Homo sapiens: one gene and its partner. The protein of the gene in region 1 interacts with the protein of each later gene in a pairwise test. Each region holds a gene or a part of one and is shown in the gene's direction. Other genes may lie near its edges. The genes, in order: DSG1 and PKP2.

The links.
Region 2: the proteins of DSG1 (region 1) and PKP2 interact in a two-hybrid assay, tested with the Homo sapiens proteins (one study listed by BioGRID).

The regions. Positions count from the first base shown.
Region 1 is NC_000018.10:31,312,040-31,322,276, forward strand, and holds the start of DSG1 (desmoglein-1 preproprotein), read left to right. Parts: upstream 1-6,120; 5' UTR 6,121-6,261; coding exon 6,262-6,309; intron 6,310-10,237. UniProt on the Homo sapiens protein: Component of intercellular desmosome junctions. Involved in the interaction of plaque proteins and intermediate filaments mediating cell-cell adhesion.
Region 2 is NC_000012.12:32,885,246-32,894,933, reverse strand, and holds part of PKP2 (plakophilin-2), read left to right. Parts: intron 1-155; exon of another isoform or gene 156-654; intron 655-9,688. UniProt on the Homo sapiens protein: A component of desmosome cell-cell junctions which are required for positive regulation of cellular adhesion.

The DNA.
Region 1 (10,237 bases):
CCACACCCAGCTAATTTTTGCATTCGTTTGTAGAGACAGGGTTTCTCCATGTTGCCCAGGCTTGTCTTGAGCTCCCAGGCTCAAGCCATCCTCCTGCCTCAGCTTCCCAAAGTGCTGGAATTACAGGCAGTAGCTACTGCGCCCAGTCTACAGCACTTTCTTGAGAAGAGGCATGACATAAAGAAAGCAATGTTTTAGAAACACTATTCTGGAAAAGAAATATAACATGGATTAAAATGAAGACTTTTGATACAAAATGTATAATTAGAAGTATGCACAGCAATGCCAGGTGAAGGGTGCCTGGAGAGAAACCATGAAAGCAGAAATGAAGACCGAAAGGCAAAGTGCAGACAATAGAAGCAATTAACTGTGGCTGTATTCAATTAAACACTATAAAATTTAAAGTATAAGATGAGAGATTTAGGTAAGCTACAAAGAAAGAAAGAAATTAAGTATTTTAGCAATCAGTTCTATTATGCCACAAATGTGTAGCCATTAACATTATAAGATTTCTCTCATGTCACCTCCAGTAAAACTGGGCTATGGATTCCCAAAGCATCTTATGCATGCTTCTGTTCAGCAAGTGGAAAAAAAATATGTTGTTTTCCCCATTCCACAGCCTGGAGCCACATGAGGGCAAGAACCATATTCTATCCATCTTTGTAATCTCAGTCCCTTAGTATAGTGCAAGGAACATAGTAGGTCAAAGAAATAAATGCCATAGAACTGGCCTGGGGATAATGTATTACAAGTAAAAAAAAAAAAAAATAGCCTGAAGTTGCACATGAAATCCAAACACTACAGTGGGACTGTGGCTAACCCACGTAGGTGTATGAGTAGAACAGTCTTCCAGAAGTAAGTAGTATTACTTCTGTGTCAGTGTGTTTGCAGCTATAAGGTAAGCTCCTTAAGAGCAGAGTTCAAAATTGTTTTGAACACAGTGCCTACTACAGTGATGAACATGTAGCAAAACTCAGAATTATCATATATTTTTAACTTCTTTAAAGCACAAGCAATAATAGCTCAGTCTCTTTCACTATTCTTATTTCATCATAAAATACTTACATATTAGATAGAGTTCACAGTTCTCAAAATTATTTGAGATTTTCCCTTTGTTCATAAACATTGTTTCTATATAGAGAAAAGCATATAAAGATGTGTTGCCGTTGAATTCCCATTCTAGAATTTACTAGAGAAAAATAATTAAGATTTCCCTTAGATCTGGGGAAAAAAAAGGAAGAAGAGTTAGGCTGTAGATTATTTTGGTCAATTATAAACAAAATCTCTCTAAGCATAGAAAACTAAAAATACAATTTTATTATAAATATATTTTTCTCAGTGATCAGTTTTTTTATTTATTTATTATTATTATTTTTTAATTTGAGATGAAGTCTCCCTCTGTTGCCCAAGCTGTAGTGCAGTGGCACCATCCCAGCTCACTGCAACCTCCCCCTCCCGAGTTCAAGCAATTCTCCTGCTTCAGCCTCCCGAGTAGCTGGGATTACAGGGGTCTGCCACCACGCCCAACTAATTTTTGTATTTTGTAGTACAGATGGGGTTTCACCACATTGGCCAGGCTGCTCTCGAACTTCTGACCTCAAGTTATCCGCCCCCATCAGCCTCCCAAAGTGCTGGGATTACAGCCATGAGCTACCACGCCCGGCCTAGTTTTTTAAATTTTAATGGCTACTTTCAGTCATCATGATTTCTGTTCACATCCTTGAGATCAATTTTGTGACTTCTCCTAAAATCAACTAATCTACTCACAAGTCATATTTCATACTGCAAGCTATAATCTATTCATCTAGTCAAGGGATTGTCAAACATTTTCTGTAAAGGGCAAGGGAAGTAATTATTTTAGGCTTTCTACGCCAACATGGTCTCTGTCATAACTTCTTAGCCCTGCTCTTGTGGAATGAAAGGAGCCACAATTTATATGCAAATGACTATGGCTGCGTTCAACTAAAAAAAGAACAAAAACCACACAGTGGACCCTATTTGACCCATGGCAATAATTTGCTGACGTCTACTTAAGTTCATTATTTTTACTTTTATTAGGAAAATTTTCAAATATACACAAAACAAAGAAAACCATATACTATCATTTAGATTTAACAGTTGTTAATATTTTGCCATATTTATTTTATCTGTTTCATTGCTGAATTATTATGAAGAAAATTTCCATCATCATGACATTTCACTCCTAATGTAATTCACATATCTTTAAAAATAGACATAATATGGCTAGGCATGGTGGCTCACACCTGTAATCCAAGCACTTTGGGAGGGCAAGGCGGGTAGAACGCTTGAGGTCAGGAGTTCAAGATCAGCCTGGCAACATGATGAAACCCCATCTCTACTAAAACTACAAAAAATTAGCTGGGTGTGGTGGCTCACACCTGTAGACCCAGCTACTCAGGAGGCTGAGGCATGAGAATTGCTTGTTCTGGGAGACAGAGTTTGCAGTGAGCTGAGATCACGCTACTGCGCTCCAGCCCAGGCAAGAGAGCTAGATGCATCTCAAAAAAAAAAAAAAGACATAATACAATATAACCTGATAAAATATATCATAATTTTCTACAGTTCTTATTTAAATTTTCCCAGATATTGGATATCCCAAAATTACTTCCACAGCTCTTTTGTCCAAACCAAAAATCCACTTACCAATCAGACTTTGCTGTGACTGCTATATATGAAAAAGAAAAGTATCTTTTAATCTAAAATGCAGGCCCCATCTCCCAGATGTATGTGGGTGTGACATTGACTCTTTGAGGAATAGTTTAATTTTAAACAATGTGAACAAGATCTACAATCAATATATCTCATGGTAATATTAATACAGTATAGAGGCAAACAGAAAATTTTTATTTATATAATGCCTAACATATTTACTTCAATTTCCCCTCGAGTTTTAAGTTTTTCATCTTTCACCTATTTTTTAAACAATGTGTAGAGTTCATTAGGATAATTTAGAACATATAAAACTAGAGGTTCACATATAACATTAAAACATAGTTAACAATAATTTGTTGTATATTTCAATATAGCTACAAGAGAAGAATTTCCCAACACAAAAAATAAACGTTTAAGGTGACGGATATCACAGTTGCCCTGATTTAATCATTATAACATTGCACAGGTATGCAAACATCACATGCACCCCAAAAATATGTACAGCTATTATATATCAATTTAAAAATACTTTATTGCTAAAAGGAAAAAAAAGCACATTCCAAAGAATTTCTCTGAAATATAAGTCCATGCTATGGATGCTATGTAAATGAAGGTGGATAAAACAGTTACTGTTATTAGGCTTGAGAACTTCTAGATCAATAAAATGTGTTACCTTTAGTTAAATATGCGGATTATTTTGTTTTTCAAAATTATTTTTTTAGAGGCTGATTATTTTGTTTTCTTAAAGGGTATTGCAATATTTCAAGCTAACAACAAATGTAGAAATGCAAACACTTAAGTTACATTCTGGAGTTTTCAATGCCTTGTGAAAAAGAGGAAAATCCTCTTCTCTAGAGAATTTTAGTCCCTATGGAAACCTTTGTCAGCTCACCAGGGAGATTCCAGACAGAAAAATCACCCCAAATTTCACAAAATTTTTATGAAATGAGAACTGTTGCTATGTACGTGCAGGTACACATACTAAACAATGTTCAGAGTAAAGAAAAGGAGTTCACTGAGATGGGAGAGAAGAAGCAACAGTGTGATGTGAGGTTACAGATGAGGTTGCTGGAAGAAAGAATTGAAAACATTGTGAATACGGAAATGAAATGGTTTGTGTTGCCTATGTTTTAAAGTATCTTAACTCATTGGCATTAGGAAGGAGGACCACTAAGTCAGGAAAAGGGACAGGACCAACTGAGATAAGAGTACATGAAGGAAAACTAATTAAATGTGCTCATTGAAAGCTGGAACAATGGTGGGGTTCTCAATTAAGAAAAGGCATAGGGTAGATTGAGAGAGGTGAGTTTGTAAAAACCGGAAGTTAAGGTTTGGAGTAAGAGAGAAGATAGACAACAAAAGCAATGATGTCTGCACTGTCCAATATGGTAGCCACTAGCCACATGTGGTTATTTAAATTTAAATTAAGCAAAGTTAAATATTCTCTTCCTTAGTCATAATAACCATATTTTAAATCCTCAATAGTCACATATTATAAATGGCTACCATATCTGACAGCATAGATAGAGAATATGTTCGTATTGCAGAAAGTTCTACTGGATAGCACTGTTCTGAGGACGTTAAAATGAGTAAGAAAGAGAAAAAGGCAGGGAAGGAGGCAAGGGAGAGAAAGTGATTAACAAATTCCCTCTCCCGCTGTGTTTAACATCGTATTGGCTCTCATGTAACTGCCAAGACAGACGCTGCTCTGCAGTATTGGAGTTCTATCACACCTCCTCTCCAGAAAGATGTTTGAGAGATTGCTGCCTTATGAATCCCCTAGTCATATAGGATTGTTGGAGCAAGGCATTGAGTTAGGGGTGGAGCCAGGGTTAGGTTTAAGGAAAGGTAATTTAATGGATGAAGGAGGCCCCCATGCATGCCCTAGCATCATGCCCAGAATCCGAGATGCATAAAACATTGACTCGCCACTGGAAAGCTGCAAGAGTAGGTGCAGTTGTCTCTGGTGCCCAGTGAGTCTTCTGCTATTCATGGTCAGACAACATGATACTAATATATTGCTCAGACTAAGTCATAGGTTAATACAGTCTATTTTATTTGACATTTCTCATTAGAGAAAATCGGCCAGCTCATCTTTCTAAATTTTATTTATTTACATCTGCTATTTACAATCATAAACATTCTTATTCACTGCAAATAAACATGGGCAGCCTATCTCCTCCCCTCCACACTGTATGATGGATAATATGGAAATTCAAACCACACATCTTCTTTGCCACAAATCTGTAGTGAAATGACAGCCTTCTATAGACCCTCTGACCCTCAGAGATTTTCTTCCTTTTGGAGACATTTTGAGTATCTTTTTGACCATAATCAACATCTTATCAGGTAGGTCTCTTGTTCTAAGTAGCCGTTTCAAACTCTGAGGGTGTCCAGTGTCTATGAGCTTCCTGCCACTCACAATATTTATACTAGACGTTGCCAGGGGAAGAGAAGAGAGTCCAAAAATATGTCCAAATGCTGCCCTGTGAAGGTTGCTATTTATTTTCACAAACCTCAGGGCTGCATTCAGTTTCCCGTCTACCTGTGTAGGCAGCCATTTCTTCAGTGTATTCCCTATGTTCTAATTGGCTCGCTGTACAGATTCTTGGCTCTGTGCTTAGGAATTGTCATTGACTTTTAACCCACCTCACCTGCTGAGCAGCTTTCTGTGTTTTCATTAGTATTTCAGGCACCGAATCTCATTTTTAAAGTTATTATCAGGATTTTAATTGGTGGTTCTCACTATTCACCCTTAAGTTTAGTAATATTTAAATTTTTATTTTGTTGCATTTAATAAAAGAATCATAAAGAAAGAAAAATAATTAGGGAGAGAAAATAATTTCTTTAGAGGGAAAATGGAGGATTCCTTAGACTGAAGGCTGGTCAGTTAATGGGAATTGTGACTTATGCAGAGGATCTAATAATTGTAAGTATCATGGTTTTACTTGTTTGAATTAATAACTTTAAAAAATCTCAGTCTTGCATTAGCATATTTTCTGTCTCTTAACAACCGAAAATAACTGAAACTTTCCCAACATCTACTAAAATGGAAAGTTTGTCATTTTCTACTATGACCTGAGGGTTTGGCTACAAACAGATAATGGAATGAATAAGATGAGCATTCAAGTTATACCTGCCTGTTTAATATGGGGAGAAACTAAACCACCTGTAAAGAAAGCATGGGGTGAGAAGCCCCCATCACCTGTATAACCCTCGGTATTTCTGTTCACTTTAAGAGCCTGCCACTGAAAACATTCAGTAAAGGAGTGAATCTTCCTTGCCCCATCAAGAGTCGCTTTTCAGCTGGAGGAAGGGTGTGTCCCCAAGTTTTTACCTGGGAGCAATGATGATCTTGTCAAGCATTTCAGTGAGACCAGCCCAAGTTTTTAGGGTGGGGATCCAGACTGGTTATACGTACCTTCAGTCCTTCTCCCAGAGGAAGGCAGAAACACCTCAAAGCCTGCATGTAAGAACATCTACTGAGAAATTATTTTAATCAGACACCAGCTGAGTGGGAGAAAGAAAAAGAACAGAGAAGAACAAACAAAACTCCCTTGGTCTTGGATGTAAGAGAATCCAGCAGAGATGGACTGGAGTTTCTTCAGAGTAGTTGCAATGCTGTTCATTTTTCTGGTGAGTGGATTCTGGTAAAAGTCCTTCATAATCGTGCCCATTGTAAACAAGTGAAAACTTTTTAGAAAATGTTAGTGGGCATTATTTCTAACCTAAACCCATTGAAAATGTATATTAATGACAAGATGATTTTATGAACTAGATTTTTCAATAGCATTTCTCTCTTTAATTGAAGACTCAAGATCATGTTAATGCCTCAGTGTCAACTCATTGTATTACATCTCTGACACTGAAGTCATTGCTAAGTCATGCTGGGAAAAGACTGAATTTAGGAAATTCCTATCGCTAGTTAGTAGCACTTTGTCGTTCAAAATCTCTTCTGCAAGAGGGCTTTTAAACTAAATATCACAAGTGTGTCTGGATTTTTAACCTGTTTTTTTTTTTATTTTTTTTGTGTGTTTGGTGGTGGAATTACTCTAATTTTTAAAACATAAAAATAGCACCACATAATTTAAAATCGTAGCAGTTTGTGGCTGGTCTCGCTATCCAAATAAAGTCATCAGTTGCATATTTGGTTAGAATCTGTATCACTACTATAAAAAGCCCCGCACTATTTAACTATGATTTTATTTAAAACATTTTTAATTTCAAAAAACGGCAGTACAGGAGGTTTATAAATGACATATTAAGTGAAGAAGTGGCTATAATTAAAGAGTAAGTATAATTATTATTACACTCGATCTTACTACTGGAATGTCAGTGATGACTGCGATATAAAAGTTGTGCACTTGATCGTCTGACGAATGTAATGAAATACTTTATCATTGCCCCCTTACATGTAATTAGTTTTCTTGCTGTAGAGATAATACTAAGTGCACCACTAATGTATTATGTCAATTTCACTTTCAGTGAAAATTTGAAAATTGTAATCTCTCTCATAGTAAGGTTAATGTAATTCAAAAAGGCAGGTGCCAAGTAAATTGCCCTCCAGCTTGGCAGGATGTATAGTGCTGTGGTTCACATTTGTTTCTACTTGCTTAATTTTTGAACTGGAATGTTGGGTTGGTTGGTATAATAAGTTAGATCTTTGATTCAAAGTATGCTGGTTAGTTTGAATTCAGTTTTATTAACTAAGGCGGGACATAATCAGTGGATTTAGTTATAAATGAGCATCAGTAAGCTGGTGGCTTTGGTTCCAAGCTTTCCTTCAAACATTAGTCCTATCCCATGCTCTTTTCAGTGGATATTTAGGATCAGTTGATTTCATTACTTAGGATTTGGTAGGGATCACTGATCATTATACAGTATGTCATTTGAAATATGAGAGTTTCATATTGTCAGTAATCAAGCACTTTTACTTAAAATTTCAAATAAATTTGATCCATTAAGAGCTATTATAGTTTTAGTTGATCAGCTTGTTCAGATAGGTGTACACTAACTTTCATAGAATCTCTAAGATGTGCCTTATTTGTTGATTTATTTATTTCAAATTAATTATAGCATATCAAATTTCTTTAAACAGCCACTTCCTATTTAGTCATTCTTCAATAAAATGTATCATCATCAAAATCATATATCTTTATTGAACTTTCTCTAGCTGTGCCTAGATTTTTTTTTGTTGGCTTATGGGGGTTTTTTTGGGAATGGGGGAAGAGGAGGTTACCTTATTTTATATTGAAATTAATCACAAGTCTCCCACATGCCTTATGAAAATTTTTTCTCAAAGAACTTACACTATCATGAATTACAATGTTTCATTTTCACGTTGACATCATAGGTTTTTTTGGAAAACATTTCACTTTCTAAGGTTTGGAAGATCAAAATTTATTTTAAGTACAGATTTTACCACATGGGATAATTTTGGTAATTGTGCTTTGGAGTTTCCTAATCTGTATTTTTCTTTAAAATACTTTTTTTCTTCATAAAACAACCACCACTATAGCAAATTCTTTCAGTTATCTTTCTCCTAGTCTCATTATAAATGCATGCTTTTACCAAAAAATGAAAAAAAATTTATGTAAAGTCTTTATATTCGTCTCTACTCAAAGTCAATAAGCGGGAACCTGCATTAGGAAGCGTATTTGTACAATTGTTAAGGCCTTTAAGATATTTAAATTGGTAGTGTCTTTTAAGCAAATCTACCTGAGAACTGGGTAACTATTTGTTTGCAAGCATACTGTGTATTCATCTCAATGCATCTGAAGGTTGTGAACCTTGTTCAAATGAGTGGGTTGAATCAGGGAGAACAAAGCTGGAGGAGCTGCTCTTACAGCAATCAAGATCGCTCTATGGCTATTCCATTGTTCTGACAAGTCTCCTGGACAGGCAAGAGATTACACCTGCTATAACACTGCAAGTCAAACACATTTTGTTAATTCTGCATCTATTTTTCATTCTTCTTTTTGTTTCCATGTAATCAGTGTATGGAGTAGAGAAAGGAGTTAGAATGTATTTTCTCTAGGCCTGAGAACAATGCTTCTTATGCACCAAATAAAAGAAATCTATGTGCATGTATATGACAATGGTAAAAAGTACAGCATGGTCACTGTGGGAAAGCAAAACAGAGCCAGAGGGATCTCTATGGTTTTAATGATTTCTGAAAATTACTTGCAACTTTGCCAGGTCCAATTAGTCCATTTAAGTCAATACAAATCTGAAGATGTCTTTTTCTAAAAAGGTAAATTTCTGCAGCTCAAGCTCAAAGAACAGAGAAAATGACTTTTATCTATGACCATGAATGATCTGATTATTTTGGTTCATTATAGTAACCATTTTCCCCCTCTTTCTATGGGTTAATATTTCATTTCGAAACAAACAAACAAAAAAAAACCCAACCCTCTGACACCTGATAAACTAACTCCACAGTTTGAACCGAACTGAAATTCTGTAAAATATGAGCAGGAGTTTTTAAGAGTACTTTCATCACTCAGGCTAAAATACACAGAAAATAATACACATTTCATTACATAGTTCCTAAACTTACTTGAAGACATCTTAAGTCCCCAAAATTGTGTTCACAGATGCCTAAAGCAAGAGAAGAACTAACAAATTAGTACAGACCAAACAGAAGACAAGCAAAAGAGAGAGCTCTTTGTGCTTTCTTGAGCGTGTATTATAGTGATATGTAGTATAGAGATCAGTGTTTCAGTAAAATATTTTGTAGAAAATGGAAGGAATATTTCTGTTCACGTATTCAGTGAAACTTACAAATTGCATTCAAGTGTCATCATTAACAGTTATATGGTGTTCATAAAAGCTTTATTATTTCGCTGTAGATTTAGGATTAGCATCTTCTATCACCTTTACAGAAACAAGGAGTACACATTTATCATCGCTCAATTGGTTTGAGTTGCCACAAAGTAAAAACATTTTGTCATCCCTGTTTTAGGAAAAGAGTAGAAACTAAAGCACTGAAGAATGCTGTCTTAAATCTGAAAGGCTGACCCTAGAATAAGATTCACTTATTTAACAAATCTCATCAATCTAGAAAATTATCTTATCTATACCCAGAGCACTTAATTTCTGGTAACTCTTTCTCCACAACACATTCATCAAAGACCTGGTTGCTGAGTATCCCTGTGTCCTAATAGACATTGCCTAACATATCAGCAGGAAGCCTGCTGTGCCAGGCACCGCAATTAGATTTATAATGCTCCCTCATCTCAGGGAACACCCTTGCCCAGTGCTGGGTCATGCCACCCTTGCTGATTATGCTTGATATGCAAATTCCTTCAATAGACTTAGACAGATCAAATTTTTTTAAATGCCATTGGCTGCTGATCCATGCTCTTAATTGGTCTATGAGAATAGGCCACAGTTTTTCATACTCGTCTAATGAGAAATCATATCTCTACAAATTAATGGTTGCCTGTTGCTCTCAAAACTGCAAGACTGTAAGTTATTTGAAGGCAGGTTCTGTGTCTGATTTGCCTTTGTATCCCTTATGGTGCCTTGCACCAGTGCAAGATTGCTCAAAAGATGTCTAATC
Region 2 (9,688 bases), on another chromosome or scaffold:
TGGGGAGGTCTAGAAAACACAGAACTGCTGCAATACATGGAGGGAAAGACCTTATATTTATTTAGACTTAGGGGTCTGACTAAAGACTGCGGGATGAGTGAGGCCAGTCTTTGAAAAGTGGAGCCATTACACCCATTCATTCTCTGTGCCCATAGGTCCAGTGCTAAACTGAAACCAAATCAGCTTCCCCTGCGTAGGAGACACAGGAGGCATATTAGATATTCTTTCTTATCCTCTGAGAATGGCCAGCTAGGAAGAGAGCAAGCAGATACAACTCTTCCATAAATGGAGGGAATGGAGCCATGAACAGAAGAAAAGGGAATGTTGCTGAGCATCTACTATGTGCCTATTCCAGAATCTTCATTATATTCTTGAAACAATTGCTGAGATAGATATGAGAATCCATCTCACATATGAAGTATGTGTCTGTCAGCAATGGTTGGAAATTTAATCCCAACTCCACACATAATCTGTTCTTTCTACAAAGTAATGCATCACCTGTGTGATGAATTCAGCAAGCATCAAATGAGTATGTTCTTCATGCCGGGCGCTGTGCAGGTGCTGAATTAAACACAAAGACTCTGCTTGCTTTAAAGCAAAAAGTTTGAAGAAGGAAGCCAACCGCTAGAAAAATACATTACCAAATAAAAAGTAGTAAGTGACCCAAAAGAATGGCTAATATATTATGGAGTTTAGAAGTGTAAATTGGCTGGGCGCAGTGACTCATGCCTGTAATTGCAGCACTTTGGGAGGCCGAGGCGGGAGGATCACCTGAGGTCGGGAGTTTGAGACCAGCCTGACCAACATGGTAAAATCCCATCTCTACTAAAAATACAAAATTAGCCGGGCGTGGTGGCACATGCCGGTAATCCCAGCTACTCAGCTACTCGGAAGGCTGAGGCAGGAGAATCGCTTGAACCCGGGAGGTAGAAGTTGCAGTGAGCGGAGATCTCGCCATTGCACTCCAGCCTGAGCAACAAGAGCGAAACGCCATCTCAAAAAAAAAAAAAAAAAAAAAAAAAGTAAGTTACTCCTGGTGGCAGGAAATTTTGAAAAGCTTCCTGGAGGTAGATCTCAAAAATTCAGTAGGACTGGACATAGGGAGGTGACTGGAGAAAGATCATTCTAGGAGGGAACAGAATGAATATTTCACAGTTCACAGAGTTGATATGGTAGAACAAAGGGCACTATCTTGGTCCTTCTGCTATAATGCTTGGGTCAACTACTTGACTGGCTGTTCCAACTAAGGAACAAAGCGTTTGAAATATTTTGATTGCAACAGCAGCTTTCCAGTAAGCTGAAATACACTCTGCAGCCTACACAGAAGTACAAATCAGACAGAGAGATAAGGCAGCAAACAACACCTACTTACTTTAAAGCCTCAGCTTTCTAAGACTCAAAAAGGAAATCAGCTTCAAAGGAATTTAACATTAGCATGCCATGAAACAATTACCAGGGGTGGTTCGTATGTATTGTTTAATTAAACTTCTTTGAAAAGGTCTGGGGGCTCGTGGTGGTTCTGAGTATAATTTTTATTATTTCCATGTTACTATCCTGTCTCTCAAGTTGAAACAGACAAGCAATTGTTGAAACAGTGCTGGTCTGGAAAAAATCCTGTATCAACACAAGAAATTCCAGGAAGAAAAGACCCTGATGTTAACTGCTATTAGCTCCAGGGCCCTGGAGAATTCTGAGTTGTTGACAAACCTGTAAGGTTGAGACAGCGGATAACCTGCTGAAAGCAGAGATGAGATAAATGTGGCTGATTTGTTGATAAGTATCTTGCAAGAGTCTTTAACCCTTTGTCTTCTTTCCAATGCCTTAGTATAGCTGGGTGGTTTTCATTGTAAATCACTCAGTGACTTTTGGTGTTATTTTTAACTGTGCTGAACATTTTAAAGTTGGCTGTAACTCTTTGGGAAGGGGCCTTCAGAGGTGTATAGCAGCATTGTGAAGTAAGTCTGTATTGTAGCTAATAGTTAAAATATTTTTCTAAAATAGAAGACATTTAAGAATTGCAAGTATTGGCAAAGGGAAAAATTAAAAGCATCCATATCCTATTTATTACACTTGCCTTAAAAGTACTACTTGCTACACAGTTCTCCCCCCCCCCCCGCCCCCACCCCAGGTATCTGAGTGGAGAGAAAATTGTGTTTTAAATTGTATTTACTACTTATAAAGGACAGTGAACAATCTCCTAATGCAATTATATTTACAACCTCTTTGGAAATCCACCACAAAACTTGAGGCACACTATTATCTTAGGTGATTTCCTTGGTGAAGCTGCTTTTCAATATCTGTGATCAAAGTGAATTCTGGGCTGGGCGCAGTGACTCATGCCTGTAGTCTCACCATTTTAGGAGGCCGAGACGGGTGGATTACCTGAGGTCAGGAGTTTGAGATCAGCCTGGCCAACATGGTGAAACCCTGTGTCTACTAAAAATAAAAAACAAATTAGCCAGGTGTGGTGGTGCATACCTGTAATCCCAGCTACTAGGGAGCCTGAGGCAGGAGAATTGCTTGAACCTGGGAGTCAGAGGTTTCAGTGAGCCAAGATCATGCCACTGCCTCCAGCCTGGGCGATGGAGTGAGACTCCATCTCAAAAAAAAAAAAAAAAGTGAATTCTGGAGAGAGAATTGAAAATTGGCTCAGGGTAGCAAAAGAAAGGTAGTTACTAGGCGCTACTGTTAAAAAAAAGTTAGACATTGTTCAAATTCTGCATAAATTCTTCCTTTGACAAAAAGGAATCCCAGGAATGAAGCAATTCTGGGGAGCAAGGTGACTAATCGTTCAGAAAGTAGGAGGGATCAGGAAAGGGAAAAAAAAGAGTGAGATGGCGGGTGGCAGGGTCATGGCCCTCTGCTCTGAATGTGAGGTGTCAGTAGCACACTGGATTAAATGCACCTCTGTGTCTGTGTAATATGGCCTGTGAGCCACTTTTTGTCCAGGGCCAAGCAGATTGAGTTCGGTAAGTCCAAAAATAATTAAAGAAATCCTTCTGATTATAGTAAGTGAAATAGAATGTTAACAAAATGGTAGTTAACAACAACAACAAAAAAAACTTCACACCCCTGGAAATGTTGAGAACACATCTCTTAGGGGTGAAGTTTTGTGTGAGGGTAAAGTAAGGATGCTTCAGAATCCGTGGAACTGTAAGAAACCACAAGTAGACCCAGAGTAGCAGGGTTTGATTATGAAAGTACATTGTTCTATATGTGACAGATAAGACGCAGGAAATTACCTTAAAGGAAGGAAGACTGTTCATTTAGGCTTTTAAAAGACTGTTGTTATCTGTATGCCCTGTGCTAAGAGTTCCACAGTCATGGGAACAGAGGGTAGCTTTTGTATTAAATATTCTAGGTATTTGTAGTTCACATTTCCTCAAAGTTTTAGATAGCAACTTTACAGTTTTTTCTCATTTATTAAAATAAGCCTATACATAGTTACATTATTTTATCTTCACATTTTAACATTGATTTTACCCTACAATTGAATTCCTAGTCTGATCAATACAAATTATTAAAAGTTTTGATTTTTTTTCTCTGAGAGAACAAGCATATTATTGGCAAACTATGATAGTAATGAAATATAATAAATATGATGCTAAAACCTCTGGAGTTTATAAATCAGATGATTAATATGGCCTATAAGATGATTTATTTCCATCTCAGATGACATTCAACAAGTTTAAATTATACAATTCTGAGACAAATGTTGGACTTCAGGTATCTTGTGCATGTCTACAAATATATGAAGATAAATACCCTACTTCTCCTGAGGAAGTAAATTAGCAGTAAAAGGCAGCAATGCAAGTGGGAATAGACAATAAATTAGGAGAAAACTTTATTTTTCTATTAGAGTGAGCCACCTGGCTCCCCTGACTAGTAGAGTAAGACTACTAAACAAACTATCAAGTGCTCTCATAATAAAAACATTAAAAACCTGTTGTGTGTCTTTTCTTTTCTTTTTTTTTTTTTTTTGTTTCGCTCTTGTTGCCCAGGCTGGAGTGCGGTGGTACGATCTCGGCTCACTGCAACCTCTGCCTCCCGAGTTCAAGCGATTTTCCTGCCTCAGCCTCCCGAGTAGCTGGGATTACAGGCACCCGCCACCAAGCCCAGCTAATTTTTTGTATTTTTAGTAGAGACAGGGTTTCACCATGTTGGCCAGGATGGTCTCGAACTCCTGACCTCAGGTGATCCGCCCACCTCTGCCTCCCAAAGTGCTGGGATCTCAGGCGTGAGCCACCGCACCCGGCCTGTGTATCTTTTCTATAATGCCATTTCTGGTAATTGGATATTGGACATAAAAACAGTTGTAATGTTCTTAAAGTGTTTAAAGACAAAAGCTTGAGAGCTCAATATGTAGATTTAAATAAAAATGGACAGTTGGAAAAAAAGAAACTTAAGCATTTGAAAACACAACCTGCCATTACTATTAAAATAATTCACATATTTATATTCTTGGAATAATCAGCTTTAGACTTAATAACATTCGTTAACCTAAGCAGTCATAATCAAAGTTCTGCAATTCCTTGATTTCCAGAATTTGTGGATGAAAACCTTCATTAGAAGCTTAATGGATTATTTTTTCTGAATCTCTCAGTAAGCTATTTATGGGGTGGGTGTGGGTGAGCATCAAGCTTATTGGATCTTGATTACTCTTTTTCATTGAAGAATGAAAACAAATGGGAACTTTTCTTGACAGATAATATGAATTTATAGGCCACCAAAATATTACAGATAAATACACAAGCCATACAGATAAAAGAATGATAGTAAACATATATTATTCAAATATAGAAACAACCTTGCCAAAATGAACAAAGTCAGCTTTTCTTTTTTTTTTTTTTTTTTTTTTTGAGATGGAGTCTCGCTCTATGCCCAGGCTGGAGTGCGGTGGCACAATCTCGGCTCACTGCAACCTCCGTCTCCTCGGGTTCAAGCGATTCTCCTGCCTCAGCCTCTCAAGTAAGTGGGATTACAGGTGTGTGCCACCACACCCGGCTAATTTTTGTATTTTTAGTAGAGATGGAGTTTCACCATGTTAGCCAGGATGGTCTCGATCTCCTGACCGATCCACCCGCCTCGGCCTCCCAAAGTGCTGGGATTACAGGCATGAGCCACTGCACCTGGCCCAAAGTCTGCTTTTCTAATAAAAGTCTGCCTACATTCTGGGGAAGCAACTTTCCTTCCTCTCCGTATACCCAGAATGACAGAGAACAGTCGAAACTATTTGAGCACCTTCCATCTACCCCAAGACAAAAGCATGTATGTGACTATCATACTCACATTTTAGTTCCATTCTGGTGAGCCACAGAATACATACCTGCCTGAATGATTAAGCGCAAACTGAATTTGTGTAACTAGGATATTTCTAATGTACAGGTAATCTGACTAATCAACAATTAACTTGTCAAGTACTGATACAAGACTGTGCTAGAAGTGGTAGTGTAAGATACAGTTCTTTCTGTCAAAATCTCTTTGGAAGAGAAAATAACCTCTTTGTTTTAACGTGGCCCCACTCCAATCCATTCTCCACACAGCTGCTAGAGTGAACTTTCTAAAATCTCATTGCATCATTTCCCAGTTTAAATTCCTTCAGTTTCTTACTGTTATCTGCAAGAGTAAAATTATTGAACACAGCATTCCAAGTTCTTCGTGATCTAATGCCTGCAACTTCTCAAACTTCATCCCTGGGGCCACTACCCTTGCTCCCCACCAAACACACACAGGCAGTTTATCTTGCTTGGTATTTCTACCCCTCCTTGTCTCCCTCCCTTCCTTCTCTTGCCCAGTTAACTTAGTTCAGTTGTGTCCCTTATAGGCAGCCTCCTTCACCCCTCTCCTCTGATCTTGAATGCAAGTTAAAGAATTTGATAATTGTGAGTCACAGATATTTCCACAGGGAAGAAACATGAAAAGTGCAGGAGTTTTGTGAAAATACATTTGACAGATTTGGTGGATTTAAAGTAGGAACAGACCTAGCATGGTGGCTCTTTCCTGTAATCCCAGCACTTTGAGAGGCCGAGACAGGAGAATCGCCTGAGGCCAGGAGTTCAAGGCTGCAGTGAGCTCTGAATGCACCACTGCACGCCAGCCTGGGCAACAGAGTGACCCTGTCTCAAAAAAAAAAAAAAAAGAGGCCGGGCGCAGTGGCTCACGCCTGTAATCCCAGCACTTTGGGAGGCTGAGGCGGGTGGATCATCTGAGGTCGGGAGTTTGAGACTAGCCTGATCAACATGGAGAAACCCTGTCTCTACTAAAAGTACAGAAAAAATAAGCTGGGCGTGGTGGCGCATGCCTGTAATCCCAGCTACTTGGGAGGCTGAGGCAGGAGAATCACTTGAACCCGGGAAGTGGAGGTTGCGGTGAGCCGAGATCGTGCCATTGCACTCCAGCCTGGGCAACAAGAGTGAAAATCTGTCTCAAAAAAAAAAAAAGAAAAAGAAAAGTTGGGTTAGCAGTTATGAATCAGTTGGGAGGGGTTAACCCTGGCACGTGAGAGGCAGGGGAAATATAATGACTTGAAAGTCATTACAAAGAAAACCTGTAGTAAGTATTTTAAAGCAAAAAATAATTTGTGAGTTCTATAAATTCACCTTTTTTTATATTATTGGGAGTATAATGTGATATTTGCCATGGAAGTTATAAAGTCTTACAAGTCTTAAAGTCTCATGAGATATCTCAGCAAATAATTGGCAGGAATGCCAAAGTAAAGACACAGTTACAGAAATGAACAGTGTATTCATTCATTCATTCATGAGACAGCGTCTGTCTCTGTTGCCCAGGCTGGAGTGCATCTTGGCTCACTGCAACCTCTGCCCCCCGGGCTCAAGCCATTCTCTCACCTCAGCCTCCTGAGTAGTTGGGACTACAGGTGTACGCCACCACACCCAGCTAATTTTTGTATTTTTTTTGTACAGATGGGGTTTTGCCTTTTTGCCCAGGCTGGTCTCAAATTCCTGGACTCAAGTGATCTGCCCACCTTGACCTCCCAAAGTGCTGGGATTACAGGCATGAGCCACCGTGCCTGGCTGAGAAATGAACAGATTTAGATACTTCCAGGATATTTCTATTTAATACTTCACCAGGATGCTAAATTACCAGTTTATAATAACAAATTCTACAATTACATATTCTAATACCTCAAACAAAATATGACATGAACACCTGTGATATAAAAGGGCCATTTAATGGCTCACGCCTAAAGCGCTGGCACTTTGGGAGCCCGAGGCGGGTAGAACTCTTGAGGCCAGGAGTTTGAGGCCAGCCTGGCCAACATGGCAAAACCCCATCTCTACTAAAAATACAAAAATTAGTCAGCATGGTGGCACACACCTGTAGTCCAGCTACTCGGAAGGCTGAGGCACAAGAATCGCTTGATCCTGAGAGGAAGAGGTTTCAGTGAGCCAAGATCGCACCGCTGCACTTCAGCCTGGGCGACAGAGCAAGACTCCATCTCAATAAAAAAAGTGGGAGGGGGACATTTAAAATGTGTTTTTGTCATTACCTAGAGCAGTGATTTGAGGATTGCCCCCCAAATGTCATAAATTGGTATATCAGAAGATAGCTCTTGAATTGCTTAGGGGGCTCCTGAAAAATAAGGACTCTAGTGGCTGGTATATCGTGTGAGTGATAACAGCAATGGATTAGTCAGTCGCACACTGGCATGTGGTATGTGTGGCCCACTCTTGCAGGAGAGCTGTTCTGTCCCTGGCATATTCAACGTTTTAAGAACTCATAGCCAGTACTTTCTAGCATATACCTGATACACCAAGTTGTTTCTCATGGTTGATTATGTGAGCTAACTGGTCACAAAATATAGCACTGTACAACTATTGGTTAAATTTTCAATAGTATAAAACTTTATTAGACTTTCATCTGCTTTGAAACAATTTTTCACCATAGTGTTCCCTTTTTTTTTTTCCTTTTTGAGACAGAGTCTTGCTTTCTGTCACCCAGCCTGGAGTGCAGTGGCCCAACCTCAGCTAACTGCAACTTCTGTCTCCAGGGCTCAAGCAATCCACCCACCTCAGCTTCCCAAGTAGCTGGGACTACAGGCCCATGCCACCATGCCCAGCTAATTTTTAAATTTTTAAAATTTTGTAGAGACGAGATCTCACTATATTGCCCAGGCTGGTCTCAAACTCTTGGACTCGAGTGATCCACCCACCTCAGCCTCCCCAAGTGCTAGGATTGCTAGTGTGAGCCACCCTGCCCAGCCAACTATAGTTTTCTAAACCAACAAATTCTACTTATTTTCCAGCCTAAGCAAATGCTTACTTGGGCTGTTGTGATTTCCATCAATATCTGGTTGTTCTTCTTGGAAAGTAAGAATAGAAGATAAAATATAGTTTTAAAAAATATGTAAGTCCAAGGAAATGAATCGTATGTTTTATGCCAACACAGACAGACAAAAAACAAAAAAAATTCCTTCACCAACTCAGGAGTGCGGACATACGTATGGTCTTTGATGAGTCTCAGTATATTTTCTGCTTTCTTTTAAGCTCCTACTATTGCTAGTAAATGACTTTAAGGATCCATTCAAATATGAATTGCTATACAAATTCCTCTGAATAAGTGGCAAGATCCCATGTCTTACCTGGAATAACATGTCCTCAACTTTACTGTAATGGGAGAAGTTAAATCTTTTAAGATTTGTGGAGAACGAGAGCTGTTGCAAGCCAGAGATTACTGTAGAAAGACCAAATAACAGTAAGATGATAAGCTTTTAGACTTTCAGGCTCTTTCCTTCTAAAAGACCATCGTGAATCCACACTGTGAGGACAACTGCTCACGGTTGTTAGCCCAATTACCTGCAGCATTTAAATCAATACTAATAGCGAACACCTGCTGATTTCTGTGGTTACATTTAACCACACCTGTTTTTGTGGGCACCTCTACATGTATCTTCATCTCCAGAAATCCTCCTTTTAGAGCTCAGTGTGAACCAAATCACTTTTTTTAAACCACACTCAGTGCTAGAAGATTGAAAGAAAAGACGCTTTTCTGAATGTGAGTGCACCTCTCTTCTCTCTAATAGAAGCAGGCTATATAAAGATCTTGCTTGTTTAGCAGTTCTCTGTCATTTGCTTACTATAAAAGAAACTGTAGTTGGTTTTTTATAAATATGCCCAGAAACAGGTAATGGAACCACAATAGAGACTTGTCAATTTGATTTCATAAATACATTCAATCTAACCAATTACATAATAAAATTGTTCACAAAACTGTGATTATGAAAATCAACTTAGTTTTTTTTTTGGGGGGGGGACGGAATCTTGCTCTGTTGCCCAGGCTGGAGTGCAGTGGCACAGTCTCACCTCACCGCAACCTCTGCCTCCTGGGTTCAAGCCCGGCCCCCAAGTAGCTGGAATTACAGGTGCCCAACAGCACACCTAGCTAATTTTTGTATTTTAGAGACAGGGTTTGTATTTTATGTTTTAGAGACAGGCTTTCCCCGTGTTGGCCAGGCTGGTCTCAAACTCCTGACCTCAAGTGATCTGCCCACCTTGGCCTCCCAAAGTGCTGGGATTACAGGCGTGAGCCACTATGCCTGGCCTTATTGACTATTTTAACCCTGACAATAATTCATTATTTCGAGCAATGTTTGTATTGGTGACCAAACACAAAGCTTCTTTTTCCATAACAGCTGCTTAGGAATCATATCATTCCAATGAACACTCAG